Homo sapiens: one gene and its partners. The protein of the gene in region 7 purifies or fractionates together with the protein of the main gene of each other region. This does not show direct contact. Each region holds a gene or a part of one and is shown on either strand. Other genes may lie near its edges. The genes, in order: GUSB, GJA1, SERPINA3, PM20D1, FLG2, IMPA2 and SH2D3A.

The links.
Region 1: the proteins of SH2D3A (region 7) and GUSB purify together in Homo sapiens (affinity purification with mass spectrometry; one large-scale study listed by BioGRID and IntAct). This does not show direct contact.
Region 2: the proteins of SH2D3A (region 7) and GJA1 purify together in Homo sapiens (affinity purification with mass spectrometry; one large-scale study listed by BioGRID and IntAct). This does not show direct contact.
Region 3: the proteins of SH2D3A (region 7) and SERPINA3 purify together in Homo sapiens (affinity purification with mass spectrometry; one large-scale study listed by BioGRID and IntAct). This does not show direct contact.
Region 4: the proteins of SH2D3A (region 7) and PM20D1 purify together in Homo sapiens (affinity purification with mass spectrometry; one large-scale study listed by BioGRID and IntAct). This does not show direct contact.
Region 5: the proteins of SH2D3A (region 7) and FLG2 purify together in Homo sapiens (affinity purification with mass spectrometry; one large-scale study listed by BioGRID and IntAct). This does not show direct contact.
Region 6: the proteins of SH2D3A (region 7) and IMPA2 purify together in Homo sapiens (affinity purification with mass spectrometry; one large-scale study listed by BioGRID and IntAct). This does not show direct contact.

Annotation. Positions count from the first base shown.
Region 1 is NC_000007.14:65,975,219-65,979,231, forward strand, and holds part of GUSB (beta-glucuronidase isoform 1 precursor), read right to left. Parts: intron 985-4,013; coding exon 797-984; intron 1-796. UniProt on the Homo sapiens protein: Plays an important role in the degradation of dermatan and keratan sulfates.
Region 2 is NC_000006.12:121,445,646-121,447,936, forward strand, and holds part of GJA1 (gap junction alpha-1 protein), read left to right. Parts: intron 1-1,186; 5' UTR 1,187-1,202; coding exon 1,203-2,291. UniProt on the Homo sapiens protein: Gap junction protein that acts as a regulator of bladder capacity. A gap junction consists of a cluster of closely packed pairs of transmembrane channels, the connexons, through which materials of low MW diffuse from one cell to a neighboring cell.
Region 3 is NC_000014.9:94,618,891-94,622,390, reverse strand, and holds part of SERPINA3 (alpha-1-antichymotrypsin precursor), read right to left. Parts: intron 3,197-3,500; coding exon 2,923-3,196; intron 51-2,922; coding exon 1-50. UniProt on the Homo sapiens protein: Although its physiological function is unclear, it can inhibit neutrophil cathepsin G and mast cell chymase, both of which can convert angiotensin-1 to the active angiotensin-2.
Region 4 is NC_000001.11:205,829,936-205,833,663, forward strand, and holds part of PM20D1 (N-fatty-acyl-amino acid synthase/hydrolase PM20D1 precursor), read right to left. Parts: intron 2,832-3,728; coding exon 2,663-2,831; intron 445-2,662; coding exon 345-444; intron 1-344. UniProt on the Homo sapiens protein: Secreted enzyme that regulates the endogenous N-fatty acyl amino acid (NAAs) tissue and circulating levels by functioning as a bidirectional NAA synthase/hydrolase.
Region 5 is NC_000001.11:152,352,994-152,357,417, forward strand, and holds part of FLG2 (filaggrin-2), read right to left. Parts: coding exon 1-4,424. UniProt on the Homo sapiens protein: Essential for normal cell-cell adhesion in the cornified cell layers. Important for proper integrity and mechanical strength of the stratum corneum of the epidermis.
Region 6 is NC_000018.10:11,998,068-12,002,491, reverse strand, and holds part of IMPA2 (inositol monophosphatase 2), read right to left. Parts: intron 3,439-4,424; coding exon 3,305-3,438; intron 1-3,304. UniProt on the Homo sapiens protein: Phosphatase that can use myo-inositol monophosphates, myo-inositol 1,4-diphosphate, scyllo-inositol-1,4-diphosphate, glucose-1-phosphate, beta-glycerophosphate and 2'-AMP as substrates in vitro.
Region 7 is NC_000019.10:6,764,067-6,769,203, forward strand, and holds the start of SH2D3A (SH2 domain-containing protein 3A), read right to left. Parts: upstream 3,370-5,137; 5' UTR 3,321-3,369; intron 1-3,320.

The DNA of each region.
Region 1 (4,013 bases), on a different chromosome or scaffold from region 7:
CTGGCTGACCCTGGGAACCTGCCCTTCAAAACATGGCCTTCCCTTTGACAAGACAAGGTGGCTCATGCCTGGAGTTCCCACACTTTGGGAGGCTAAGGCAGGAGGATCACTTGAGTCCAGGAGTTGAAGACCAGCCTGCTGACAGACTGAGACCCCATCTCTATAAAAAAAAAATGTTTTTCTTCTGAGACAGTCTCAGTCTGTCCCCCAGGCTGGAGTGCAGTGGTGTGATCTCAGCTCACTGCAGCCTCTGCCTCCTGAGTTCAAGCAATTCTCCTGCCTCAGCCTCCCGAGTGGCTGGAATTACAGGTGTTCGCCACCATGCCCAGCAAATTTTCATATTTTTAGTAGAGATGGGGTTTCACCATGTTGGCCAGGCTGGTCTTGAACTCTTGGCCTCAAGTGATCCACCCACCTCAGCCTCCCAAAATGCTGAGATTACAGGCATGAGTCACTCTGCCCAGGCTACAAAATTTTTTTTATTTAGCCAGACATGGTGGCATGTGCCTGTAGTCCCAGCTACTCAGGAGGCCAAGGCAGGAGGACTGCTGCAGGCTGAGAGTTCAAGGCTGCAGTGAGCTGTGATCAGGCCATTGCACTCCAGCCTGGGTGACAGAGTGAGACCATCTCAAAAAAAAAAAAAAAAAAGAAAATGGGCCTCCCACCAAGGGTGAGAAACATCAGAAAGCTCAGAGGACCATGCCTGCCCATCCACCTGTCTTGGGCTCCTGCTGAAGCCAGGGTCACCACATGGGGGCAAAAGACCTCCCTTAGGCATGTCCCAAACCACCATTACCTCCAATGAATACAGATAGGCAGGGCGTTCGTGCATCAGGTACGGCCACCAGAGGCTGACACCTGGCACCTTAAGTTGGCCCTGGGTCCCAGTCCCATTCGCCACGACTTTGTTTTCTGCATCCAAAAGACGCACTTCCAACTTGAACAGGTTACTGCCCTTGACAGAGATCTGGTAATTCACCAGCCCTGCAAGAAACAAGAGAGACCAGGGCTGAGGGAGGGACACGACCTGAGTCACACAAACAGGAGCGCCCTGCAGCCACCGCTGCCAGGCAGCCATTTGTTTCTGTTGCTTTTTTTAAATTTAATTTCTTATTTTTTTTTTTTGAGACGGAGTCTCACTCTGTCCCCCAGGCTGGAGTGCAGTGGCATGATCTCGGCTCACTGCAACCTCCACCTCTGGGGTTCAGGTGATTCTCCTGTCTCAGCCTCCCAAGTACCTGGGATTATAGACGTGCACCACCATGCTTGGCGAATTTTTATATTTTTAGTAGAGATGGGTTTTGTCATATTGGCCAGGCTGGTCTTGAACCCCTGACCTCAGGTGATCCACCCGCCTTGGCCTCCCAAAGTGCTGGGATTACAGGTGTGAGCCACCGCACCCGGTGCTTTTTTTAATTTAAAAAAAGATTTTGGCCAGGTGCAGTGGTCACACCTGTAATCCCAACACTTGAGGAGGCTGGGGTGGGAGGATCGCTTGAGACCAGGAGTTCAAGACCAGCCTGGGTAACATAGGGAAACCACTTCTTCCCTAAAAATACAAACAATCAGCCGGTCGTGGTGGTGCGTGCTTGCAGCCCCGGCAGCCCCAGCTACTTGGGAGGCTGAAGTGGGAGGATTGCTTGAGCCAGGAGTTCGGGGCTGCAGTGAGCTATGATCTTGAGGCAGGATAGGTAGTCAAGGAAGTGACCGTGTCCCTCAGACATGCCAACCACGGCACTGAGACACGTGACGTGTGAACAAGCATGTACAGCTACTACGCATGTGCAACCAGAGGACGGCCCAGAACGTGCTTACAGTAACACCTCTTCCCAGCTCCTTAGGAATTCATCACGGAAGACTCCCAGAAAGGGAGTTTCCCCAGTAATAATCGGTGCTGTCTCATCCTTACGAGCAGCCTGTCCTGAATTCTGTGTCTCAGGGTGAACTGTGCATTTTGCACTTCACTATTTTTTTTGAGATGGGGGTGTCACTCTGTCACCTAGGCTGGAGTGCAGTGTTGCAATCTCAGCTGACTGCAACCTCCACCTCCCGGGTTCAAACAATTCTCCCATCTCAACCTCCTGAGTAGCCGGGATTGCAGGCTCACACCACAATGTCCAGCTAATGTTGGCTAAGCTGGTTTGAACTTCTGAGCTCAAGTGATCCACCCATCTCGGCCTCCAAAAGTGCTGGGATTACAGGCATGAGCCAGTGCACCCAGGCTGTTCTAAACTTAACTTCCAAAATACCTTTCCTTGGCAATAAATTGCTCTATGGTGCATTGTCTTTGCTGTGGGATTCTTTTTTAAATTCTTTTTTATTCATTTATTTTATTTTATTTATTTATTTTTTTCTTAGATAGGGTCTCAGTATGTTGCCCAGGCTGGTCTCAAACTTTGCAGCTAAAGCGATCCATCCACCTTGGACTCCCAAAGTGCTGGGATGACAGGCATTAGCCACCACACCCAGCCTAAATTCTTTTAAACTTAGAACCGCGGCCCCACAACGGCTGTCAATAATCTCACCACTGCACTCCAGCCTGGGCCACAGTGCAAGCCTCATCTCAGAAAAAGAAAAAGATATATATATATTTTTTTATTTTTATTTTTTGACATGGAGTCTCGCTCTGTCCCCTAGGCTGGAGTGCAGTGATGCAATCTCAGCTCACTGCAAGCTCTGCCTCCCAGGTTCACGCCATTCTCCTGCCTCAGCCTCCCGAGTCGCTGGGACTACAGGCCCCTGCCACCATGCCCGGCTAATTTTTTGCATTTTTAGTAGAGACGGAGTTTCACCATGTTAGTCAGGATGGTCGCGATCTCCTGACCTCGTGATCCCCCCACCTTGGCCTCCCAAAGTGCTGGGATTACAGGCATGAGCCACCGCGCCCGCCCTGAAAAAGATATATTTTTAAAAAGAAAAAAAACTTAAAACAAAAATTTTTCTTAAATACAGACCGAGCGCTGTGGCTCATTCCTGTAATCCCAGCATTTTGGGAGACTGAGGCGGGTGGATCCCGAAGTCAGGAGTTGAACCAGCCTGGCCAACATGGTGAAACCCCATCTCTACTAAAAATACAAAAATTAGCTGGACGTGGTGGCACACGCCTGTAATCCCAGCTGCTCAGGAGGCTGAGGCAAGAGAATTGTTTGAACCCGGGAGGCGGAGGTTGCAGTGAGCCAAGAACACGCCACAGCACTCCAGCCTGGACAACAGAGCAAGACTCCATCTCAAAAACAAAAAACAAAAACAAAAAAAACAGGGTATCCCAGCTGGGCACAGTGGCTCACGCCTGTAACCCTTGCATTTTGGCAGGCCGAGGAGGGTGGATCACCTGAGGTTAGGAGTTCAAGACCAGTCAGGCCAATAGAGTGAAACCCTGTCTCTACTAAAAAAAAATAGAAAAATTAGCCGGGCGTGGTGGCGGGTGCCTATAATCCCAGTTACTCGGGAGGCTGAGGCAGGAGAATCGCTTGAACCCGGGAGGCAGAGGTTGCAGTGAGCCAAGATCACGCCATCGCACTCCAGCCTGGCGACAGAGCGAGACTCCAGCTCAAAAAAAAAAAAGAAGAAAAAAAGAAAGACAGGGTCTGCGTCTGTTGCCCAGACCAGAGTGCAGTGGTGTGGTCATAGCTCACTGCACCCTTGACATCCCAGGCTCAAGTGATTCTCCTGCCTCAGCAGCTGGGACTACCGGCACACATCACCATCCCTGGCTAATTTTTTAATTTTTTGTGGTGATGGCCTCACTATGTTGCCCAGGCTGCTCTTGAACTACTGGCCTCAAGTGATCCTTATACCAGGGCCTCCTTGCAAAGTGCTGGATGACAGGCATAAGCCACCATGCCCGGCGCCCCCCCCACCGAAGCTGCCTGTTCCTTGAGCACGATGTGTAGCAAGGGGAGATGGAGTGAGAGTAGCACCATAGAGAAGGGACAGGATTGCCACCCCGAGCTGTGTGACGTTAGGCCAGACCCCTCTTCTCCTAGCGAGGTCAACCACACGGGTGATTTTGG
Region 2 (2,291 bases), on a different chromosome or scaffold from region 7:
TTTTTAATAAGGCTGTGAGTAGTATTGAGACAAAATGAACTTTTTACATGAAGTGTGATGTGTATTTAGTCTTTGTTTTTCAAAGTAGGTTACTACATATAATGACACATTGTAGCAAAAGAGTATATTTCCATACAGCCTACTTTTTCTCTGGACAGAAGGCTGACTTCTGAGCTACATAAGTCACTGCTTAAGAAAAAAATAGTCACCATTGCTTGGGAGGCTAAGGCAGGAGGATTTCTTGAGCCCAGGGGCCTGGGCAACATAGTGAAATCCTATCTCTAAAAAAAGAAACAGAAAAGTGTAAATGACAATAATATAGGGTATGCACAAATTACACTTGATATACCATTGAAAAATCTTCCAGAGGCCAGGCGTGGTGGCTCACACCTGTAATCCCAGCACTTTGGGAGGCTGAGGTAGATGGATCACCTGAGGTCAGGAGTTCGAGACCAGCCTGAGCAACATGGAGAAACCTCATCTCTACTAAAAATACAAAATTAGCCAGGCGTGATGGCACATGCCTGTAATCCCAGCTACTTAGGAGGCTGAGGCAGGAGAATCGCTGGAACCTAAGAGGCGGAAGTTGTGGTGAGCTGAGATTGTGCCATTGCACTCCAGCCTGGGCAACAAGAGGGAAACACCATCTTAAAAAAAAAATCTTTCAGAGTGAAATTAGTAATAAAATGATATATAATAGCATTAAGGTTTTGGAAAGAAGGTTATGGATGTGTGTTTATAGGTATTCTTACCTGGATTCTTGATACCTATGCTTTGAATAACACACATCAGGATTTTGCTTAGCAAACACAGATCTACCAGGCAAAAACTGTCCTCATTTATCAGACAAATAAAAGGAGCAGAGGCTTAGCACAGGTGGCTTCTCAAGTCACACAGCAAGGCAGTGGTTGAGCAAGCAATACACCTTCCCAGGTTAAAGACTGCAACTCATCATCTGTTGCTTCTAAGACTTACTTTGTCTCAACAAACAAAACAAAACACTTGTTAGATCTTTTCTTCGTTGGCAAAAATGGGACAGGAAGAGTTTGCACTTGGTTTTTTGTGAAAGAATGTTAGAAATACGTGAAACCGTTGGTAGTATTTTGACTATCACCTGAAAGGTACTAAATGTTAAACTAGTAATTTGCAATCTGTGATCCTTGAATTGTCTCTTTGTTTCTTTCAGGTGGTGCCCAGGCAACATGGGTGACTGGAGCGCCTTAGGCAAACTCCTTGACAAGGTTCAAGCCTACTCAACTGCTGGAGGGAAGGTGTGGCTGTCAGTACTTTTCATTTTCCGAATCCTGCTGCTGGGGACAGCGGTTGAGTCAGCCTGGGGAGATGAGCAGTCTGCCTTTCGTTGTAACACTCAGCAACCTGGTTGTGAAAATGTCTGCTATGACAAGTCTTTCCCAATCTCTCATGTGCGCTTCTGGGTCCTGCAGATCATATTTGTGTCTGTACCCACACTCTTGTACCTGGCTCATGTGTTCTATGTGATGCGAAAGGAAGAGAAACTGAACAAGAAAGAGGAAGAACTCAAGGTTGCCCAAACTGATGGTGTCAATGTGGACATGCACTTGAAGCAGATTGAGATAAAGAAGTTCAAGTACGGTATTGAAGAGCATGGTAAGGTGAAAATGCGAGGGGGGTTGCTGCGAACCTACATCATCAGTATCCTCTTCAAGTCTATCTTTGAGGTGGCCTTCTTGCTGATCCAGTGGTACATCTATGGATTCAGCTTGAGTGCTGTTTACACTTGCAAAAGAGATCCCTGCCCACATCAGGTGGACTGTTTCCTCTCTCGCCCCACGGAGAAAACCATCTTCATCATCTTCATGCTGGTGGTGTCCTTGGTGTCCCTGGCCTTGAATATCATTGAACTCTTCTATGTTTTCTTCAAGGGCGTTAAGGATCGGGTTAAGGGAAAGAGCGACCCTTACCATGCGACCAGTGGTGCGCTGAGCCCTGCCAAAGACTGTGGGTCTCAAAAATATGCTTATTTCAATGGCTGCTCCTCACCAACCGCTCCCCTCTCGCCTATGTCTCCTCCTGGGTACAAGCTGGTTACTGGCGACAGAAACAATTCTTCTTGCCGCAATTACAACAAGCAAGCAAGTGAGCAAAACTGGGCTAATTACAGTGCAGAACAAAATCGAATGGGGCAGGCGGGAAGCACCATCTCTAACTCCCATGCACAGCCTTTTGATTTCCCCGATGATAACCAGAATTCTAAAAAACTAGCTGCTGGACATGAATTACAGCCACTAGCCATTGTGGACCAGCGACCT
Region 3 (3,500 bases), on a different chromosome or scaffold from region 7:
TATAGTCCCTCGAGATGGAAAACTTTGGCAGGTAGAGCTCACCTATCTCTCTAGAAAACGAGAAAAAAAAAGTATCTGAACCTCTGCTGATCAGTACCTACCTGCCTCCCACCTCGCAGCATGGTCTTCCCTGGTTTCCTCTACAGTCACCCCCTTCTGATTGGAAAATAAATAATCTGTTCCTCAATTTCTTAACCCCTGTCTTTACTCTTCTTATTCATTAATTATTCATTCAGATCTGCAAGTGTGAAAGTCTCCAGGCAGCACACCAAGCCTGGAGTTGTGGCCCTGCTCGAGCCTGGCCCTGCCCTTTCCCTGCAGCTTGCAATGCAGTTGAAGCACCTTCACACCAGCAGGGACCCCTGAGTGTGTTGAGAGCCTGGGCTGGGCCAGCTGCAGTGGCTGCATGGCAGCCTGCTTCACGGGGGCACCAGGAGGGCTTCCTGTAGGAGGTGGTGTTGAGGCTGAGTCCCAAAGGCAGGAAAGGAGCTAGCTAGGTGAAGAGGTGGGCAGGAGGCAGGTGGAAGAACCTGGAAGAAGGTGGGAGCAGGAGGAGTTGCTCCACGGGGCGGTGGGTGATCTCAGTGTTTCAGGGAGGAGGGTAGTGAGGGATGAGGTGGGCCAGGAGCCAGAGGCAGGTCAAAAAGGGCCTGGGGGCCTCTGAAGAGTCTGATTGTGTTAGAAGAGCTTTGGGGATCCTGAAACAATCAATTGGAGGTTCCCATCTTGCCTCACCAGTGGGCACTGTCCCTCAAGCCAGGTGTGGGCTGGCATAGAGCAGGTAGCAAGCTCCTAGAGGCCCAGGTCACACCTGCCACCTGCAAACTCCCCCTCCCTTAGTTTATAGCCCTCTTAAGATGCCTGTCACTGTCTGCCTGGTCTTACAATTATACAGGAGGCTGTGTCTTCCATTAAACTCTGAGTCCCCTGAAGGAGGAAGGTGTCCTATTTCTATTTTTATTCATTCATTCATGTGTTTGTCCGTTCATTCCATCCTTCATTCAACAAGTATCTATTGAGCATTCTCTGTGGGCCAGGAGTGTGTGGACACATGTTTCCTCAGCATTTTGTAAATCAAAAGTGTTTGGAGAATTCTTTCCACTCAAAATTATCTGCTGAGCCCCTGCTCCCTGGTGGCTATTAGGTGCTAAAGGAGGAAGGAGTCTGGGAGTAAACGGATGGGTTGGGTAGGACCCCCACGTTCTGGGGTCTCCTGGGATCTAGAGTGAGGAGGGGCTGAGGGTCAGGCAATCCCGAGAGGTGTCCGGCCTTCTGGACAGTGGTTGGGGCAGGGGTTGCAGCCTCAGGTTAGTGTTGAAGCAGCTCCCTTGCCCTTAGTGGTTTATTATGGCTTCAACATACAATACCTCACCGGATTCTCACAATCACCCAGTGAAAACAGGGGTGGTGGGGAAAGGACATTCCTTTCTCTTCAGGAGGTAGCTGAGCTCCAGAGAAGAGCAGCGACCTGCTCCAGGTCACACCAGCCACCACGGTCTGAACCCAAGGCTGGTGCTCCTTCCTCTCTACCCCACACAGCTGCCCACATGCACTCCCTGGGCCCACTGCAGGGTCTGGGCCCGGAACTACTGCTCCTCCTCACTGTGTCCCCATGAAATCGGTCAGCTCAATTCCGTGTGTCCCAGCAAGTTCCTCTACCCTCAGATTTATCCAGAACTCAATGACTTCTCACATGCATGGCTCCCTCCTGGATCCCAGCCACAGTGGGCTCCCACCTCATGTCTGTGCCTGGTTCCTGCGGGTGTCACTGACTCCATACCTGCTCTACAGTTATTCTCCTCTCAGCAGCCAGGATTAGTCTTTTAAAACAACACTCGGATCGCAGCACTCCTCCAAACCTCCTGATGGCTCTCCATTTCACACACAGGAGGAAGGGCAAGGTTTTCTAGGGGTCTACGTGGCCCTACCTAAGCTGCTCCACCCCTTTGGGGACTCCTGACCTCTCTCAACTCTCTCCTCACTCTCTCTGCTCCTGCACCGTGGTGGAGCTGAAGTACACAGGCAATGCCAGCGCACTCTTCATCCTCCCTGATCAAGACAAGATGGAGGAAGTGGAAGCCCAGCTGCTCTGGCCTGACTCTTCTTTGACCACATCAAGCTCACTTCCACCTCAGAGGCCTTGCACTGACTGTTCCCTCTGCCAGGAATGCTTTTCCCTAATATACCAACATGACTCCACCCCTCCCCTCTGTTATATGGATGCTCAAACATCACCTAATGGCTACTCTATCTAAAATCACAAACTAACACGAGTTCCAGTTTTCCTGATCCTTTCATCCTCCTCTACTCAATTTCTATCCCCTTACTCAATTTCTCACCTTCTAATATATCACGTAACTTATTTGTTATATTTATTTATTGCCTGTCCCCTCTCCAATTACAAATTAAGCTCCAGGAGGGCAGGGAATCTTGTGTTTTATTTGCTGATTTACTCTCAGGGTGCAAATTAGTGTCTGACACATAGTAGGTGCTCAATTAATCATGCAGCAAATGCTGAGAGAATGAATAAATACAGTGGTTCACCAGTGCAGAACTGATTCTCAGAGTCCATCTCACTGCAGCCCTCAACTGATCACAATTCCTTCTGTTTCTCTCTCCCTTCAAGAGATTGAGACCAGGAGAAACCATGCATGAGTGTTTGGGACTGTGCAGAAGATTTCTCATGACTTAGAACATGCTGGAGTCAGAGGAAGCCTCAGCCCCTTGTCCTGTCTGATGTCATTGTCTTAAAGAAGAAAAAGAAAAATCAAGCCCAAAGCCATGTAGGCAGCATAGGGCAAAGTAAGTGTAAATTCCACCTGTCCCTGTATGAGTTCTCCCACCACCATGCCCTTGTCCCTGGACATTGGTGAGACCTTGACGTGGAGAGATGTGGGGTCTTTGGGGGCCAGGAAGAATCACCTGAACTCCAGAGAGTCTCTCCACCGCTTCAGGGTCTCTGGGAGCAGCATGGCTTCCACTTCCTCCATCTTGTCTTGATCAGGGAGGATGAAGAGTGCGCTGGCATTGCCTGTGTACTTCAGCTCCACCACGGTGCAGGACAGCTCCTCGTCCCGGAAGTAAGGTATAGTCAGGTGATGCAAACTCATCATGGGCACCATTACCCACTTTTTCTTGCTCAAGTAGAACCTTGACTGATGAGTATCTTGGGGGTCAAAGGGCATCTCCCATTTGGCTGAAGGTGGAGCAAGCAGTTGGAGAAGGTGTGAGTGCAAGGGTCGCCCTGCTCGACCCTGCTTCCGCAGCAGTGGAAGTGCCCAGAGTCCCTCATAGGAGGGACCCTGCTTTGGTTTAGAGAAGTAGCTTGGCAAGAGTAAAAGTTATTGGGGGTGAGGGAGAGCCCAGCAGGCTTGGATTGGGAAAAGGGCCACAAAAGAAAGACCTAGTTCCTTGTGCTAAATGAGAAATCAATAGGAACCAGGGAATAAGGAGTGCAAGAGAGAAAGAAGGTTTAGGGAAAGTGGGGGAAAGAGGCATGA
Region 4 (3,728 bases), on a different chromosome or scaffold from region 7:
TTTGTAAGTGGAGAAAACGGGGTCCAGAGGATAAGCCCTCTCCCAAAGAGAGGAAGAGCTGGGATTAGCACCCAAGGGTACCGATTCCACCAGGTTCTCCCCAATCACCCAATTATCTCCATCTTTGTAAAAGAGGGGCCAATTTCCATAAATTCTAGGGGGTGACAATGAGACTCTGGCAATAAGGACAGTAGATGGGTTAGGTTCTACAATGTCTCCATTTCATTTTGCCAAATCCTGGCTTTCCCCCTGATTCTGTGGACTGCCAGGAGCATGGGGTAGGAAAAGGACACATCAAGTGTATTTCTTTTCTCCCACCTGCTGCTCAAACCTGTTCCACTCACCGTTTGAAGTCTTCAGGCTGTATGTAGATGGGGTAGAACCTGTAGATGCCAGTGGTGAGGTTTGTAAAGAATCGGCTGTCTGTGTTGCCAATAGAAGTAACTAGAGAGGGAAGATCAACAGGAAAGGGGCTTTACATGAGCAATCAAACCAGCGAAGTGGCTGGGGTGTGGCCTGGCTGGAAAATCAGGACTACTGGATCACTACAGAGCAATGCCTGGGCTCTCCTGAAAGCGTATAGCTATCCTTACAAAAAGCACCATTTCAGCCAGGAACATGGAATCTCCTTCCAAGGGCATTGGTGAGACATCCCTTGGATGGACCATTCAAGGGATGTCTCACCAATGCCCTTGGAAGTGTCCTCTCCCCATGACGACCAGGGAGGCCAATATCTTCATTTCATACCCAAGGCCATGGCCATTTGCTATTCCCCATGACGCCCAGGGTGGCCAGTATCTTCATTTCATACCCAAGGCCATGGCCGTTTGCTGTTCCCCATGACGCCCAGGGTGGCCAGTATCTTCATTTCATACCCAAGGCCATGGCTGTTTGCTGTTCCCCATGACGCCCAGGGTGGCCAGTATCTTCATTTCATACCCAAGGCCATGGCCATTTGCTATTTAAGAAACCAGAATCTAGATAGCACTTCTTTATCACCTGACCTTTATTCTGTATCACTCTAGGTCAGAAATAAATACCCTCTGGGAGAACTTTACTACTATAAAATATCACCGTCTTGAATTGGAACAAAATTTCCTGTTATTCTCATCCTCTGAAGTCTTCCTAGAGTCAAACCTTAGGTCTGGAAAGTGCCAGGATACTCTCTTTCCAGTTTCCCACTCTCCTGAAGGTGGTAGCAGGTCACCTAGCAGAGGCTGGGACTTGTGCCCATAGGTGTGTTCTTTGGGAAAAGACACCCTGGAGGATCAATTCAAGTGTGTGCGGTGATTTGAGATGGTAATTTGTGTTTTGTTCCATCTTCCACTCCTGGTTTCAAATGGACATCCAGGCCCTTCAAGTTCCTTGCTTTGTGGTTGATTGCTGCCTATCTTTTTTCTGCAAAAGCCTGGCCCCATTGGTGGATTACAGTAAGTGCTCCAGAAGAAAGAGAATAGAGTAGGTAGCCTTTGAGGGCCAAGAGAGGAGAATCTGGGATTGTGAGGGCCGGGTTCCTGGATGTTTGGAGGAATCTCTGATTAAACCAAGAGAAAAGAAAACTAGACACAGGCCTTAATATTAGAGCATTAATAATTGAGCAATATCATTATTATTGAGCAACGTCTCTCTCCTTTTTTTTTTTTTTTTTGACAGAGTCTTGCTCTGTCACCCAGGCTGGACTGCAGTGGGGCTGTCTCGGCTTACTGCAACCTCTGCCTCCTGGGTTCAAGCGATTCTCCTGCCTCATCCTCCCGAGTAGCTGGGACTACAGGCGTGAGCTACCACGCCCAGCTAATTTTTGTATTTTTAGTAGAGACGAGGTTTCACCATATTGGTCAGGCTGGTCTTGAACTCCTGACCTCATGATCCACCCGCCTCTGCCTCCCAAAGTGCTGGGATTACAGGTGTGAGCCACCGTGCCCGGCTGAGCAATGTCTTAATATTAGAGCAATAACCATTGACCAGAGATTCTCAAACTATAGTTAGTCATCACCTTGTGTCAGAATCTCCTGGGGGTATTTGTGAAAAAGGCAAATTCCAGGGTCCCTTCCAGATTTGGTTAACCCAAATCTTTGTAGTGGGTCCAGGTAATCTGCATTTTAATAGTTCACTGGGGAGACCTATTCCACTCTTAGATTGGAGAACCACTGTCTGCAAAGCACAGATTTGGATGGGGTGCTAGAAGGCTGCAGAAGGGGAACAGAGGGGTGCTGCTGGGATTGGTCTGGGCTGGGAAACGTAAATTAGGTTAAGGCAAATGGTATGGGCTGGGAGGCTTTTCTGAGCTGAGGATTCTGAGCTCTCCTGCTGAGCTGTTATCCTAGAATGGATCAGAACCAGACTCTGGGAAGATCTTGGCCCCTTCTGTGGCTCCTAGAGAGGAGGGAGTAGTCTAAGCCAATTCTCCCCTCTATGCCAGAGTGGCTGGCCTAGGTTAAGCAAGGACCCAGGCTTGACTGACCTAATTTATTATTTCTGTTCCTTTCCTGTTTGCGTTCTCACTTCCACTCTGAAGGGAAAATACAGTTCTAGTCTCATCAGGAGGGGAAGCAGCCAGCTGTTTACAGGCTGAACATCTAGGGTGGGGGTGGGGAAGTAGACATTGGATAGGAAACAGTTCCAGCCCCCTCCTCCCTCCAGCCACAGCTGATGAAGTCATTACCTGGGGCAGTAATATTGACTTCCGGGAAGACGGACTGTACGGTCTGGCGGAGCAGCTGGTAGCCCAAGGCCTTGTCATCAGAAGGGCTGACGGGGAGGGGGTCAAAGGCACTCAACACATGGAACTGGACTCTGTTATCAGCCACAATGTTCTTCGTGAGTTCTAGGACCTCCAGGGTAGAAACAAAGGGGGTTCGATTTCTTATTGATTTCTATACATGTACAATATGGGCTTAAATATCCTGATTTCTTTCCAGCAAGGCAGAGCCTCAGGGTTTACAGACAGGACTTATTTTTTTTAAGCACTGGGACTTCAATTTCAGCTGACTGGCTATAGGTGATGTAAGAGCTGGGTCTTCCTGGAAAGCAACCTACAGCATGATAGATTTAGGTTAAATGTTTTGGGAGACTTGTCTTACAGTCATGAATCAGATCTTGAATTGGAACAAATTTACATGAGCAATCAAACCAACGAAGTGGCAAGGGGATGGCCTGGCTGGAAAATTGACTACTGGGTCACTACAGAGCAATGCCTGGGCTCTCTTGAAAGCCTATAGCTATTCTTACGAAAAGCACCATTTCAGCCAGGAACATGGAATCTCCTTCCAAGGGCATTGGTGAGATATCCCTTCGATGGAAAGTTGGATGGGAATTGGAAAATCAGGAAGTTATGTATCTTTCCCCTTGGGTGGTGAGCCACAGGCTGGATGAAAGTGTCGAAGACACAGCAGAATGTCAATCATCTCGAGGCTGGGGAATAGATGTGATGACCTGGCTTCAGCCTCGGAGAACCTCAGACAGGTAATAAAAGGGTCACACACTTTTTTCCCCCTCTCTGGGCATTTCTGCTTCCTGTTTGTAACCAGCTGCACTGGAGCCAGGAAGATGAGCTCAACACAGACAAAAAGTCAGAAGTTATGATACTTGTATTCAAGTTTTCTCTCTTTGCTTCGTTTCCTTGGGAAAGAACCTAAGGAAACTCCTAGAAAATTCTGTCTGAAACGACTAGAGTGAATCCAGAAAAATTCCTGGCTGCAGTCAGGAAGTAGACCAGACCCTGAGGATTA
Region 5 (4,424 bases), on a different chromosome or scaffold from region 7:
TGTGTTCTCGTGAGTGTGGTCTGTGTGAGCCCCCTGAGTGCACTTCACTGTCAGTGGACTCACTGTGGCTAGTTCTCTGTCTTCCAGTTGTCCTGGACCCTGTCTGTGTGGTTTGTTCATGACCAGAGTAGGAATGTCTAGTGGTATCTCCTGTCTGTCCATGAGTAATTCTGTGTCTGTCATGAATTATGGATTCTGACTCTCCATGTTGAGATCCACTTTGGCCGTGAGTGTGTCCTGAATGTGTGTGCGAGCCCCCTGAGTGCACTTCACTGTCACTGGACTCACTGTGGCCAGATCCCCTTCTTCCAGTTGTACTGGACCCTCTCTGTGTGGATTTTCCATGATGATAGTGGGCATGTCTAGTGGTATCTCCTGTCTGTCCATGAGTAGTTCCGTGTCTCCCATGAACTGTGGATCCTGACTCTCCATGTTGAGATCCGGCTTGGCCATGAGTTTGTTCTTGTGATTGTGGTCTGTGTGAGCCCCCTGAGTGCACTTCACTGTCACTGGACTCACTATGGCCAGATCCCCTTCTTCCAGTTGTCCTGGACCCTCTCTGTGTGGACTGTCCATGACCAGAGTGGCCATGTCCAGTGGCCTCTCCTGTCTGTCCATAAGTAGTTTCATGTCTCTCATGAACTGTGGATTCTGACTCTCCATGTTGAGATCCAGCTTGGCTGTGAGTTTGTTCTTGTGAGTGTGGTCTATGTGAGACCCCTGAGTGCACTTCACTGTCAGTGGCATCACTGTGGCTAAATCTCTGTCTTCCAGATGTTCTGGAACCTGTCTGTGTAGACTGTCCATGACCAGAATGGCCATGTCTAGTGGTATCTCCTCTCTGTCCATGAGTAGTTCCTTGTCTTCTGCGAACTGTGGATCCTGACTTTGGGTAGTGAGATCCAGCTTGTGTGTGAATGTGTTCTGAATGTCTGTGTGAGACCTTTGAGTGCACTTCACTGTCACTGTTCTCACTTTGGCTAGATCTTCGTCTTCTAGTTACCCTGGACCCTGTCTGTGTGGATTGTCCTTGACCAGACTGGCTATGTCTAGTGGTATTTATTGTCTGACCATGAGTAGTTTCCTGTCTCCCATGAACTGTGGATCCTGACTCTACTTGTTGAGATTCACCCTGGCCCAAGCCAGTTGATTGACCTGAGCCTGAACCATATTGGCCAAATCCAGTGGACTGACCTGAGTCAGATATATGTTGTCCAGAACTAGAGAAATTGTCTGAGCCAGACACATGCTGTCCAAAACTTGTGGTTGGACCTGAGCCAGACTCATGTTGGCCACAGCCAGATGATTGACTGGAGCCAGTACCATGTTGGCCATAGCTAGACTGACCTGATCTGTACTCATGCTGTGCAAAGCCAGAGGATTTACCTGTGCCTGACCCATGTTGTCCAAAGCCAGAAGACTGACCTGAGCCCGATCCATATTGGCCAAAGCCAGAGGACTGACCTGAGCCTGGCCTGTGTTGTCCAAATCCAGATGTCTGTCCTGAATTTGACCCATGTTGACCATAGCCAGATGATTGACTTGAGCCAGAACCATGTTGGCCATAGCTAGACTGACGTGATCTAGACTCATATTGTCCAAAACCAGAGGATTGTCCTGAACCAGTCCCATGTTGTCCAAAGCCAGAGGACTGATCTGAGCCTGATCCATGTTGTCCAAAGCCTGAGTATTGGCCTGAGCTTGACCTGTGTTGTCCAAAGCCAGTTGTCTGTCCTGAACTAGACCCATGTTGACCATAGCCAGATGACTGACTTGAGCCAGAACCATGTTGGCCATAATTAGACTGACTTGATCTAGACTCATGCTGTCCAAAGCCAGAGGATTTTCCTGAGCCTGACTCATGTTGTCCAAAGCCAGAGGACTGACCTGAGCCTGATCCATGTTGGCCAAAGCCAGAGGATTGACCTGAGCCTGACCTGTGTTGTCCAAATCCAAAAGTCTGTCCTGAACTTGACCCATGTTGACCATAGCCAGATGACTGACTTGAGCCAGAACCATGTTGGCCATAGCTAGACTGATGTGATCTAGACTCATGTTGTCCAAAACCAGAGTATTGTCCTGAGCCAGTCCCATGTTGTCCAAAGCCACTGGACTGACCTGAGCCTGATCCATGTTGTCCAAAGCCAGAGTATTGACCTGAGCTTGACCTGTGTTGTCCAAAGCCAGATGTCTGTCCCGAACTTGACCCATGTTGACCATAGCCAGATGATTGACTTGAGCCAGAACCATGTTGGCCATAGCTGGACTGATGTGATCTAGACTCATGCTGTCCAAAGCCAGAGGATTGTCCTGAGCCAGACCCATGTTGTCCAAAGCCAGCGGACTGACCTGAGCCTGATCCATATTGGCCAAAGCCAGTGGATTGACTTGAGCCTGACCCATGTTGTCCAAAGCCAGATGTCTGTCTAGACCCATGTTGGCCATAGCCAGATGACTGACTTGAGCCAGAACTGTGTTGGCCATAGCTAGACTGACCTGATCTAGACTCATGTTGTCCAAAGCCAGAGGATTGTCCTGAGCCAGACCCATGTTGTCCAAAGCCAGAGGACTGACCTGAGCCTGATCCATGTTGGCCAAAGCTGGAAGACTGACCTGAGCTTAACTCGTGTTGTCCAAATCCAGATGTCTGTCCTGAACTTGACCCATGTTGACCATAGCCAGATGATTGACTTGAGCCAAAACCATGTTGGCCATAGCTAGAATGACCTGATCTAGACTCATGTTGTCCAAAACCAGAGGATTGTCCTGAGCCAGAAACATGTTGTCCAAAGCCAGAGGACTGACCTGAGCCTGATCCATATTGGCCAAAGCCAGTGGATTGACTTGAGCCTGACCCATGTTGTCCAAAGCCAGATGTCTGTCTAGACCCATGTTGGCCATAGCCAGATGACTGACTTGAGCCAGAACTGTGTTGGCCATAACTAGACTGACCTGATCTAGACTCATGTTGTCCAAAGCCAGAGGATTGTCCTGAGCCAGACCCATGTTGTCCAAAGCCAGAGGACTGACCTGAGCCCGATCCATATTGGCCAAAGCCAGTGGATTGACCTGAGCCCAACCCATGTTGTCCAAAGCCAGATGTCTCTCTAGACCCATATTGGCCATAGCCAGATGATTGACTTGAGCCAGAACCATGTTGGCCATAGCTAGACTGACGTGATCTAGACTCATGTTGTCCAAAACCAGAGGATTGTCCTGAGACAGACCCATGCTGTCCAAAACCAGAGGATTGTCCTGAGACAGACCCATGCTGTCCAAAGCCAGAGGACTGACCTGAGCCTGACCCACATTGTCCAAAGCCAGAGGACTGACCTGAGCCAGACCCATGTTGTCCAAAGCCAGATGTCTTACCTGAGCTAGACCCATGCTGGTCATAGCCCAAGGATTGACTTGATGTAGACTCATGCTGGCCACAAGTTTGACCTGAGCCACATACATGTTGTTCGAACCCAGAGGACTGACTCAAGCCTGTTCCATGTTGTTCAAAGCTAGTAGACTGACTTGAACCAGACCCATATTGATCACATTTGGAAAATTCATTTGAACTAGAAGAGTTTGAAAAGCGGCCACAGGAACCATATTCATGTTGACCATTACTACAAGACTGGCTACCTCCAGACCCATATTGTCCACAGCAAGAGGACTGACTTGAGCCTGTTCTCCATTGTCCTCCACAGTTCTGTGGTTGACCATTTTCTCTAGCTCCATATCCTCTCTGACTATAGGACTGACTACAGGGGTTAGACTCAGGTTGACCACATCCAGAGGGCTGACCTCCTGAGACACAGCCATGGCCTTGTCCTCCCTTAATTCCTGACTGACAGCCTGACTGAATATAGCTAAATTGATTTCCTTGCCCTCCAAATCTATGTGACTGACAAGAACTTGAAGCATTTTGTGGCCTTCCACACCCACTTGAATTGCTATAACCACATGCATGACTTCGCCTCCCACTGTCTCCTGAACCTGAACAGCTAGACCCAAGCTTTTGTTCTCTAATTCTTGACTGAGTAGAGTTTGATTCATGCCCACTAGTCTCCAATCCACATGACAGACCACCATGACCTTTCCTTTCCCAACTGTTTGATCCAGATCCAGATTCATACTCCTCCCCAGATTCCCTAGAAGGGCTAATGTGTGACTTGTTTATTCTTTCTCTCAGTTCTACAGAGCTGGAACCATGTCTGTCTTTGCCACCACTCCATGAATGACCACAGCTGGACCTGTGGTATCTTTTCTGAGATCCCTCTTGGTTCCCAGAGCTGGATAAATTACCTTGTCTTCCTAGCCTCCTGGAGTTGGACCCATGTCTACATTTCACAGTTCCCCTTGAGTGCCCAGAACTATATCCATGCTCCTCTCCCTCACTCCAACTTGAATGTCTGTAACCTGATTTATGTCCT
Region 6 (4,424 bases), on a different chromosome or scaffold from region 7:
AGAAGGAAGTTTAAACCTTATCATTCTTTGATTCAGTCTACACCTGTCTTCCAGGTCAAGGAGCAAACCTTTGGATTTCATGGATGAGTGAAATAAAATAATAAAACTGGGGAGCCTGTATCAGGTTTTTAAAAAAATGTTATTAAGTCTATTTTTAATATCATTTCATGAAAGACTAAAATCAAGGAAAGAGAAAAGCTCAGAATAAAAGTCTTTCCTAAAGGAGGATGAGAGGCAACTTCAAATTAAATATATTGTTTAAGGGATATATTTAAATACTTAGAAAGCAGAAAAAAATCACAATGTCCTATTTTACAATATGTATACAATTTTCTCTCATCACAAATTTATCAACTTTTCTATGATCTAAAATACAATTAAATCCCCAAAATTTACTTTCTTTTTAATCTTAGTCATTGGCAAAAAAAACTCACTTCACATAAATATGTTGAAAAACAACTGCATTTGATGTCAATTTTTGAGGCACACTGAGCAGAGAAGAGAACAGCTGCTTTCACCGTGTCCACACATTCACCCTCAGAGCTAGGGAAGATGGGGGTGACACACAGACTGGGGCTGTCCGTGGTGCAGCCACAGTCCACTGACTTGTGGGCTAGAGCTTGGGAACCCCAGATTTCAATCACTGATTCCTGGACAGGTGTGTGGGTCTGACCCTACCAGGGGGCCTTTTCAGAGATGGAGGCTGGTGTTCAGCCCGGGCACGCTCCCAGGTAAGCCTGTCTCACCCTACCTATAATCCCCTGCTCTGCATCATGGTTTTCCCAAGGAACTCTGGAGTCTGGCGGTCCCTGGCAACCCTAAGGCCTCAAGGGTGGAGGGAGGTACCTGTGCTCACCCCATAATACATTAACTTTTACCTTGTGTACACAACAGCGAGTATCTAAATTTACCTTTTACAAATGGAACCAACTGCACACATTAACCCAACAGTGGGTTGCGTGCAATCTCAGAGTGCAGTTTGTCCAAGTGACCTGACTGAAACACATCACAGCCCCAATAACTTCACTGTGCCTGATCCTGCATCTCCTCCAAGCCTTTACCAGACCCCACGCAGATGAGCCAGCCCTCCCATGCCACGGCCACACGGATCATCACCGCAGAAACCTCTAGGCCAATATGGTTAATAAAGGACCTGGAAACAGCCGGCTCGTTACTGCAGCATGCTTCCTCTCAAAGAATCCATATGATAAATTCTTTTGCTATTGCCCTTTGATTAAAATTAGGTTTATTTATTTATTTTTCGAGACAGAGTCTTGCTCTGTCACACAGGCTGGAGTGCAGTGGTGTGACCTCGGCTCACTGCAACCTCCGCCTCCCAGGTTCAAGCAATTCTCCTGCCTCAGCCTCCCGAGTAGCTGGAATTACAGGCCCACGCCACCACACCCGGCTAATGTTTGCATTCTTAGTAGGGACGAGGTTTCACCATGTTGTTCAGGCTGGTCTTGAACTCCTCACTCGTGATCCGCCCGCCTCAGCCTCCCAAAGTGCTGGGATTACAGGTGTGAGCCACCCTAAAATTAGGTTTTAAAAGGCTTTTTAAAAATCACAAACACTGGGGCCGGGCGTAGTGGATCACACCTGTAATCCCAGCACTTTGGGAGGCCGAGGCGGGCGGATCATGAGGTCAGGAGATCGAGACCATCCTGACTAACAAGGTGAAACTCCGTCTCTACTAAAAATACAAAAAATTAGCTGGGCGTGGTGGCGGGCACCTGTAGTCCCAGCTACTCAGGAGGCTGAGGCAGGAGAATGGCGTGAACCCGGGAGGTGGAGCTTGCAGTGAGCCAAGATCACGCCACTGCACTCCAGCCTGGACGCCAGAGCAAGACTCCATCTCAAAAAAAAAAAAAAAAAATCACAAACACTTTACACCCTATAACTACTGTAACCAATTCTTGGGATCCTGACCTCAAGCAGAGTAGGGAAATAGGAAGTTAGAGAAGCTTAAACTCAAAGGTTGTCAACAAAACAAACATGAGCGACTGGCAAACAGAAATTCAGAGGGAGAGCTGGTAACCTTGAGATAACCTAACAAGTTAGAAGGAAACGACGGGAAAAAAAAAGAAGGTAAGTGTTTAACACTCGCTTGTTCTTTCATTTATATAATCATTCACAGAAAAAAAAAAAAAAAAAAAAGAGCCAGGTGGAGTGGCTCCTGTAATCCCAGCTACTCAGGAGGCTGAAGCAGGAGGATCACTGGAACCCAGGAGTTCAAGGCTGCAGTGAGCTATGATCATGCCACTGCACTCCAACCTGGGCAACTGAGCAAGACCCTATCTCTTAAAAAATATATAAAAATAAATGTAAAGAAAAGTATTTTAAGCCTACCATGTGCTGAATGGACACTGAGGGAGAGTACCATCTATATTTCTGCCACCTAAGTCCATCTAAACCTGGAACCTGACAGTTATAATACCCTACAGCCAGAAATCCAATAACTGGTATTCCAGTTTTAAGAATCCAACATCTTTAAAAGATTCTATGTAACGAAGAAAAAAGATCCCTTGCATGGTCTTCAGCATTTATACTGCAGAACTCTAGAGGTGAGAGAGGGGCCTTAGAGCCCCCCAGAGTTAAAGAAGATGTCTCAATCTGGGGTTCATGGCTCCCTTAAAATGCTATGCAAAATGCTGTGTAAATATTTTAATTTTTCTGAACAAAAGATTAATAGCTAGCATCAAATACTCAAAGGGTGACCCCAAAAAGGTTAAGAGGTGCTCATACAGGCCTCTTGCAGGGACAGCTCTGGGGCCCGGCTGTGGCAGCCATTCCCACTGCGCCCTCTGGCCTGGGCGAGGGGGCGTGCATCACTAAGCACTAGTGGTGGGCCGGGGGCCCCACGCGGCTGCCAGTGCCACTTGGCATCCCATCCTCCTGGGAAAGTTGCCCAGGCAGCTGAACAGGCATAGGCCACCAGGGGACATCACCACTCCAGGCTTCTTAGGGTGGGTCACACTTCTAGTGGGTCCTTCCAGAAATAACAAATGGTTGAGTACAGGGGTGCAAGGAGCTTTTCCTGAGCATGTGTTGTAAAAAGAGCTGCTTCAATATTCACAAGAGGATGCATTGACGTGATGGTTGTTAAGATGACAGTAAAAAGAATGAAAACAGGGCTGAGTTTGCTTACTAAGTAACTGACAAATCGCAGGTTAGGCTGCGTGGCTTAGGGCTTCACGTCTGGCCACATCAACAAACAGCAGAGCCCCCTGACCCCGGCAGACCCTGCATTCTCTATGAGTGTGGCCAGGGTTACTGGGGGTGTTTCCCAGAGGAGTACACCTACCTGTGTGAAGGAAACCTCTCTCGCAACTCAGAAATAATTAAATCTTCCACAAGGTGATCTGTTTCTGTCACAAGATCTGCAGCTGATGTTTTTGTTGAGACACGTTTTTCCTCAGTAAGGGCTTTTCTGATGATCTGAAATAAAAGTACGGGATTTGGGTTAAACATGCAAACATCCTCCTCCCAGGCAAAGGAATTATCCACTCCTTCGAGTCCCCTCTGTATTCAGCCTGCCATTGGGTGGGGGGGGGGGGGGGGGGCGGCGGGGGCAGCAGGTGTGGCTCTGTGGGTCACTGACTTCTTGCATCATTGACCTCAGAGCTAATATCACAGCCTAGGCTCTCTGGGTTTCTAGTGAGCCTTAATGACTCCACCATTATTCTTTTACAAGAAAAATTATTTCTCCATTACTTGAAATTATTTCAAAATTATTTTGTTGCACCTGTGAAACAACTTCTCTTCGAGTAAAAGAAAAACACAGGGGTTTTGAAAAGAGCATGAAACTTCCTCTGTAAGAACGGCCCAAAACAAGATCATGTTACACACCTGTGCCCTGTATAATCCCATGAATTCAAATTTAGGAGATTTCAGTGTAAAGTAAAAGCTTATTTTCCCTAATTCACTTTATCCCATGAAATGGGATATGCCCTCGAATCTGATTGTAAATGTTCCCACTGAGAAACCCGGGAGAGCTAAACTGTGTTTCAGGAACCATGGCCAGCTCTCACTGCGCTCTGGGCTGGAGCAGCATCAGCTGTCTCAGAGTTCATGCAAGGATCCACAGGGCTGAGCTCCGACACAGGCTCCGCAGCTGTGCAAGCTGCCAACACACTGGTCTAAACCCATCACAGCTATACATAGGAGCAAGGACTGGGATGGTCCCAAGAACCCCAGGAAAACCCAAACAGGAAGGGATAAAGAGTGGCTAATCAGTCCCTGGACAACTCCAGAGGGACCAGTTCTGGTCCAGCCCAGGCCTTTCTTCTCCTTTTTGTTTTGTTTTGTTTTGCTTTGTTTTGTTTTACAGACTGGGTCTCTCTGTCACCCAGGCCGAAGTGTGGTGTCACAATCACAGCTCACAGTAACCTCTAACCCCAGGGCTCAAGTGATCCTCCCACCTC
Region 7 (5,137 bases):
CACACCCAGCTAATGTTTTTTCTTTTTTTATATTTGTAGTAGAGACAGGGTTTCACTGTGTTCGCCAGGCTGGTCTTGAACTCCTGACCTCAGGTGATCCACCTGCCTCAGCCTCCCAAAGTGCTGGGATTACAGGCATAAGCCACTGCACGCAGACTTTTTTTTTTACATTTAAAGAGAGAGGTCTTATGTGTTGCCCAGGCTGGAGTGCAGTGCTATTCACAGGTGTGATCATAGCACACTTTAGCCTTGAATTCCTGGGCTCAAGGAATCCTCTAGCCTCAGCCTCCCAAGTAGTTGGGATTACAGATGTCACCATCGTGCCTGTTCCAAATATAATGCAATCGAAGAAAAAAAAAATGGCTGAAGATGACAACATGCCACCCCATCTTGCAGAAATGTAATTAATGAATTCACTGAACCCCTATTTATTCAGCACCTTATGGGGTCCCAGGCTCTGTTCTAGGCCCTAGAGACATAGCATTGAACAAAACAGATGGAAATCTCTGTCCTTGGGAGCTGACATTCTACTGGGGAGCAGCACCTCAGAAAAGAACTAGATGATGGCATACATGAGTGAGTGCTAGACAAAAAAACTAAACCATGGATGGGATATAATGAAAGTACAGGTGCTAGGGTGAACACTCTTTTTTTTTTGAGACAGAGTCTTGCTTTATTGCCCAGGCTGGACTGCAGTGGTGCAATCACAGCTCATTGCGGCCTTGACCTCCTGGGCTCAAGTGATTCTCCCACCTCATCCTTCTGAGTAGCTGGGACTATGAGCGTGGGCCACTGTACCTGGCTAATTTTTTTTTTTTTTTTTTTTTTTGAGATCAAGTCTCACTCTGTTGCCCAGGCTGGAGTGCAGTGGCATGATCTCAGTTCATTGCAACTTCCGCCTGCTGGTTTCAAGCAATTCTCGTGCATCGGCCTCCTCAGTAGCTGGGACTACAGGTGTGTGCCACCATGCCTGGCTAATTTTTAAAATATTTTTAATAGAGATGGGGTTTCTCCATGTTGGCCAGGCTGGTCTCGAACTCCTGACCTCAGGTGATCCACCCTCCTCAGCCTCCCAAAGCACTGGGATTACCAGCATGAGCCACTGCGTCTGGCTGTGCCTGGCTAATTTTTAAATATATATGTAGAGATTGGGTCTTGCCACGTTGCCCAGGCTGGGTGAACATTTTTGATCATGTGACCAGGAAAGGTCTCATTGAGTAAAGTCTGGAAGGAATTCTGGGGAGTGTGCCAGGTGACTCTGGGTGAAAAAACATCCCAGTCAGGGGGAATTTAACTTACAAACATCCATGGCTTCTCGGCAACCTATGCGCACACTCAGAGGTTCTCAGGATAGGTGCAGATCTAACCCCTATTCTTTGCTTTAGAATGCAACGCTGGGGGCCAGGCGCGGTGGCTCACTCTTGTAATCCTAGCACTTTGGGAGGCAGAGGTGGGTGGATCATCTGAGGTCAGGAGTTTGAGACCAGCCTGGTCAACACAGTGAAACCCCGTCTCTACTAAAAATACAAAAATTAGCCAGGCATGGTGGCGTGTGCCTGTAGTCCCAGCTACTCAGGAGGCTGAGGAGAGAGAATCGCTTGAATCCAGGAGGCAGACCCTGCAGTGAACCGAGATCACACCACTGCACTCCAGCCTGGGTGACAGAGCAAGACTCCGTCTCAAAAAAAAAAAAAAAAAAAAGAATGTAACCCCAGGGTTAAGATTTTTAAAAGGTCACATTTTGTAGCAATGTCAGCAAACAGCAATGTTGCCTTTGCAGATCCTTCTATTTCGGAGCCCATACATGTGGTTATCATGATGATTGAATTTGGATCTCAGACATTTTGGTAGTTTCCCGATAATCTCACAGGCCTCAGGGCCAGTGTGTCTCAGGTGTCTGGTGGGGGAGATTTCTCTGGATGGTCCAGAAGAAGATAATCTGCTTCTTACTCTCCTGCAAGCTCTCCCTGCAGCCCTGCAAAGTCTTCTGGTGGGGTCTGCAGAGAAATTCCTGCCTCCTGAGTCAGCAGGAAGTTCCCAGACCAGCCCTAGGTGGCTTTAGGGGAGGAGCGCTGGGCAGGGAGCCAGCTGCCAGTGCCGCATACCTGAAGCCAGGTGTGTCTTTGCAATGCCTGCGCACTTCCTGTTTGTCACCTGGACCAGGGCTAGCCTCGGTCGCAGAGTTTCCCAACCCCAAGTTCCTGTCTTGTGTCTCCCTTAGTGAGAGTGAAGTTGAGTCAATGGCAAGGTTCTGGTTAGTTTGAGGACACAGGGTGGCCATAGGTCAGCCAAAGGCCAACTAAGCCATCTCCTGCCTCTGAGTCCTTTGGGATCATTTATTCGGGCACGGAAGAGAAGAAACGGGCAGAATCAGGAATCAGACCAAGCATAGAGAGAGGAGAGAGGGGATTATTCATGTTCCAGTTGGATCATAAACATGTGTCCACGTGTGGGGAGGACGTGGAGGGTGGGAACCACCAGCACAGGCAACACAAACACAGATGTAGGCAGGACTCGCTTTTGACGTTGGACGACCATTGCTGGAGCACTTGCTGTGCACCAGGCTCTGTTCTAGGACCTAGAGATACAGTGACTAAGGAGATTAAAGCTCGGCACCACCCTGCCCTCCAGAGCTTGCAGTCGGCTGCGCAAGACAGACTGCAAACGAGCACAAGATGAATGGAGAAGACAGACCATTTCTAAGAGTTATCAATGAAAGTGATAAGCCAGGGAGATGTGATAGAGGAGGCTGGACAGGACAGCCTCTCCTATAAAGTGACATTGGAACTGAGACCTCAGTACAGAAGGAGGCAGTTAGGCAAAGATTTGGAGGAGTCGCCTGGGTGAGGGGTACAGTAAGGGTAAAGGCCTGGAGCTGAGATGGACTTGCTTTTTACATTTTACATCATCAAGGCGGCTGGTGTAGCCGGAATACGATGAGGAAGGAGTAGATAGGAGGGCAATGAGGTTGGAGAGATCAGGAGGAGAGACTAGGCAAAAACTAGTGGACTTTGAATTTTAATCTCTATGACCCAAGGGTTTTAAGTGAAGGAGGGGCCCGATCTGATTCGCCGTTTAAGAGGATCACTCAGGCAAAAATGGAAACAATGGCTTTCTGTGCTGCACAGGAAATACACTTAGAGAGGCACGCCCAGGTGAGCCCGAGCACACCGACACGCGTAACGCACAGCGACCCTCTCATTCGCGAGGCGACCTCTTCTACCCCAGATCCTCCCTGCGAGCCGGTGACCCCACCTGGAAAGAGAGGACTCCCCATCCCAATAATCCTGGTTCTGGATCTGCCCTGGGGCTCCACTCACCTGGGCAGGACCCGCGGGGCTCCCACGAGGCTGGGTCCAGGCGGAAGCTGAGGCTCCGCGGCTCCGGGCTGCTGTCACCCCCGCCCTCCACCTTGCCACCGCCCCAGCCTTCCCAGACCACACCTAGTGGGAACTCAGCCCAGTTACCTGACCACACCTCCTGCAGACCCCGCCCCCTGCGGGCCCCGCCTCAAACTAACTTCCCAGGCCCTTGCTCCGCCCCCTTAAAACCATTTTTTTTGCTACTAGCCACGCCTCCTTCTGCATCGCACCGCTTTCTCCATAGACCCCGCCCACTAGGGGAGCACCACGCATCCTTTCCTGCCAGTGGCCCCTCCCCTTGTATATAGCCACGACCACCGCCGAATGACTACGCCCACCCGCAGCCACCTCCTTCTCAGCCCCGCCCCTTAGGGCAATAGAAGAAATTTCATCCCAACGTTCCCGCCCCTTAGAACCCTGCCCCTCCCTTCCACCCAGGCGGCCCCAAGCACCCATGGCCCTTTGGGACCAGGGCGGGGTGGAGTGGGGTGCCTCTCTCCCCTCCCCGCCAAGGCTCCGGGTCAGGGCAGGGCAACTCCCTCGGGCTCTTACGCCAGGCTGGGGTAGCTGCGGCAGCTGTGACGTAAGGAGGGGTACGCTTCCTCCAGACCGCCCTCCCGGATTTTCCGGAAAGAAGCCCCATTTAGGTGGCGGGTTTTGTGGAGAGACGTCCGGGAAAACGCGACAGCTTCCTTCAGTGACAGCACGCTGGAGCGGGGCGGGACTTTGGTGGAGGTGGAAGGCAAATCATTCAGGTGGTTTCCCAGGTGGGAAGAAGGGTGGGGGGGACTTCCATCGTGATGCCTGGAGACGAACAAGAGAAAAGGTGACAGGGACCTAGTGCAAGAGAGAGGACTCTTTGGCCACGTTTATTGATGAGTTCCTCATATTAACATCAGTCTTGTCTTGTAGAGACAGGGTCTTGCTATATTGCCCAGGCCGGAGTGCAGTGGTGATCATAGCTCACTGTAGCCTCAACCTCCTGGGCTTAAGCTATCCTCCCGCTTCAGCCTTCCAAGCAGCTGAGACTAAAGGTGCACACCACCACACCCAGCTGATTTTATTTTATTTTTTGTAGATGTGGCGTCTTACTATGCTGCCCAGGCTCTGGAACTCCTGGGCTCATGCGAACTTCCTGCCTTGGCCTCCCAGAGCGCTGAGATTACAAGCAAGCATGAACCACTGTGCTTGGCCCCAGTAACCACAGTCTTAAAAGCAGTAGCAGCAGCTAACATTTATTGAGCACTTACTGTACACAAGGGCTGTTCTGTCAACTTGCCTTTATTTTATTTTATTTTATTTTTTGAGATGGAGTTTCACTCTCGTTGCCCAGACTGGAGTGCAGTGGCAGCAGTCTCAGCTCACTGCAACCTCCACCTCCCCGGTTCAAGCGATTCTCCGGCTGTAGACTCCCGAGTAGCTGGGATTACAGGCTAATTTTTGTATTTTTAGTAGAGATGGGGTCTCGGCCAGACTGGTCTCAAACTCCTGACCTCATGTGATCCACCTGCCTCGGCCTCCCAAAGTGCTGGGGTTACAGGCATGAGGCCTCTATTTTAATTTTCAAACAGACCACCCTGTAAGGGTGGTAGGTAGTATTTTCATCACTTCCATTTTCCAGATGGAGAAACTGAGGCACAGGGCAACTAAACCATTTGCCCAAGTTAACCTGGCTTGTAAGTGGTAGAGGCGAAATTCAAACCCGGAGCTCTGGAGCTTTATCCTGTCTGCCTCCTTTTCAATCTTCGCATGCCCACTTTCTCCACGATGCTGCT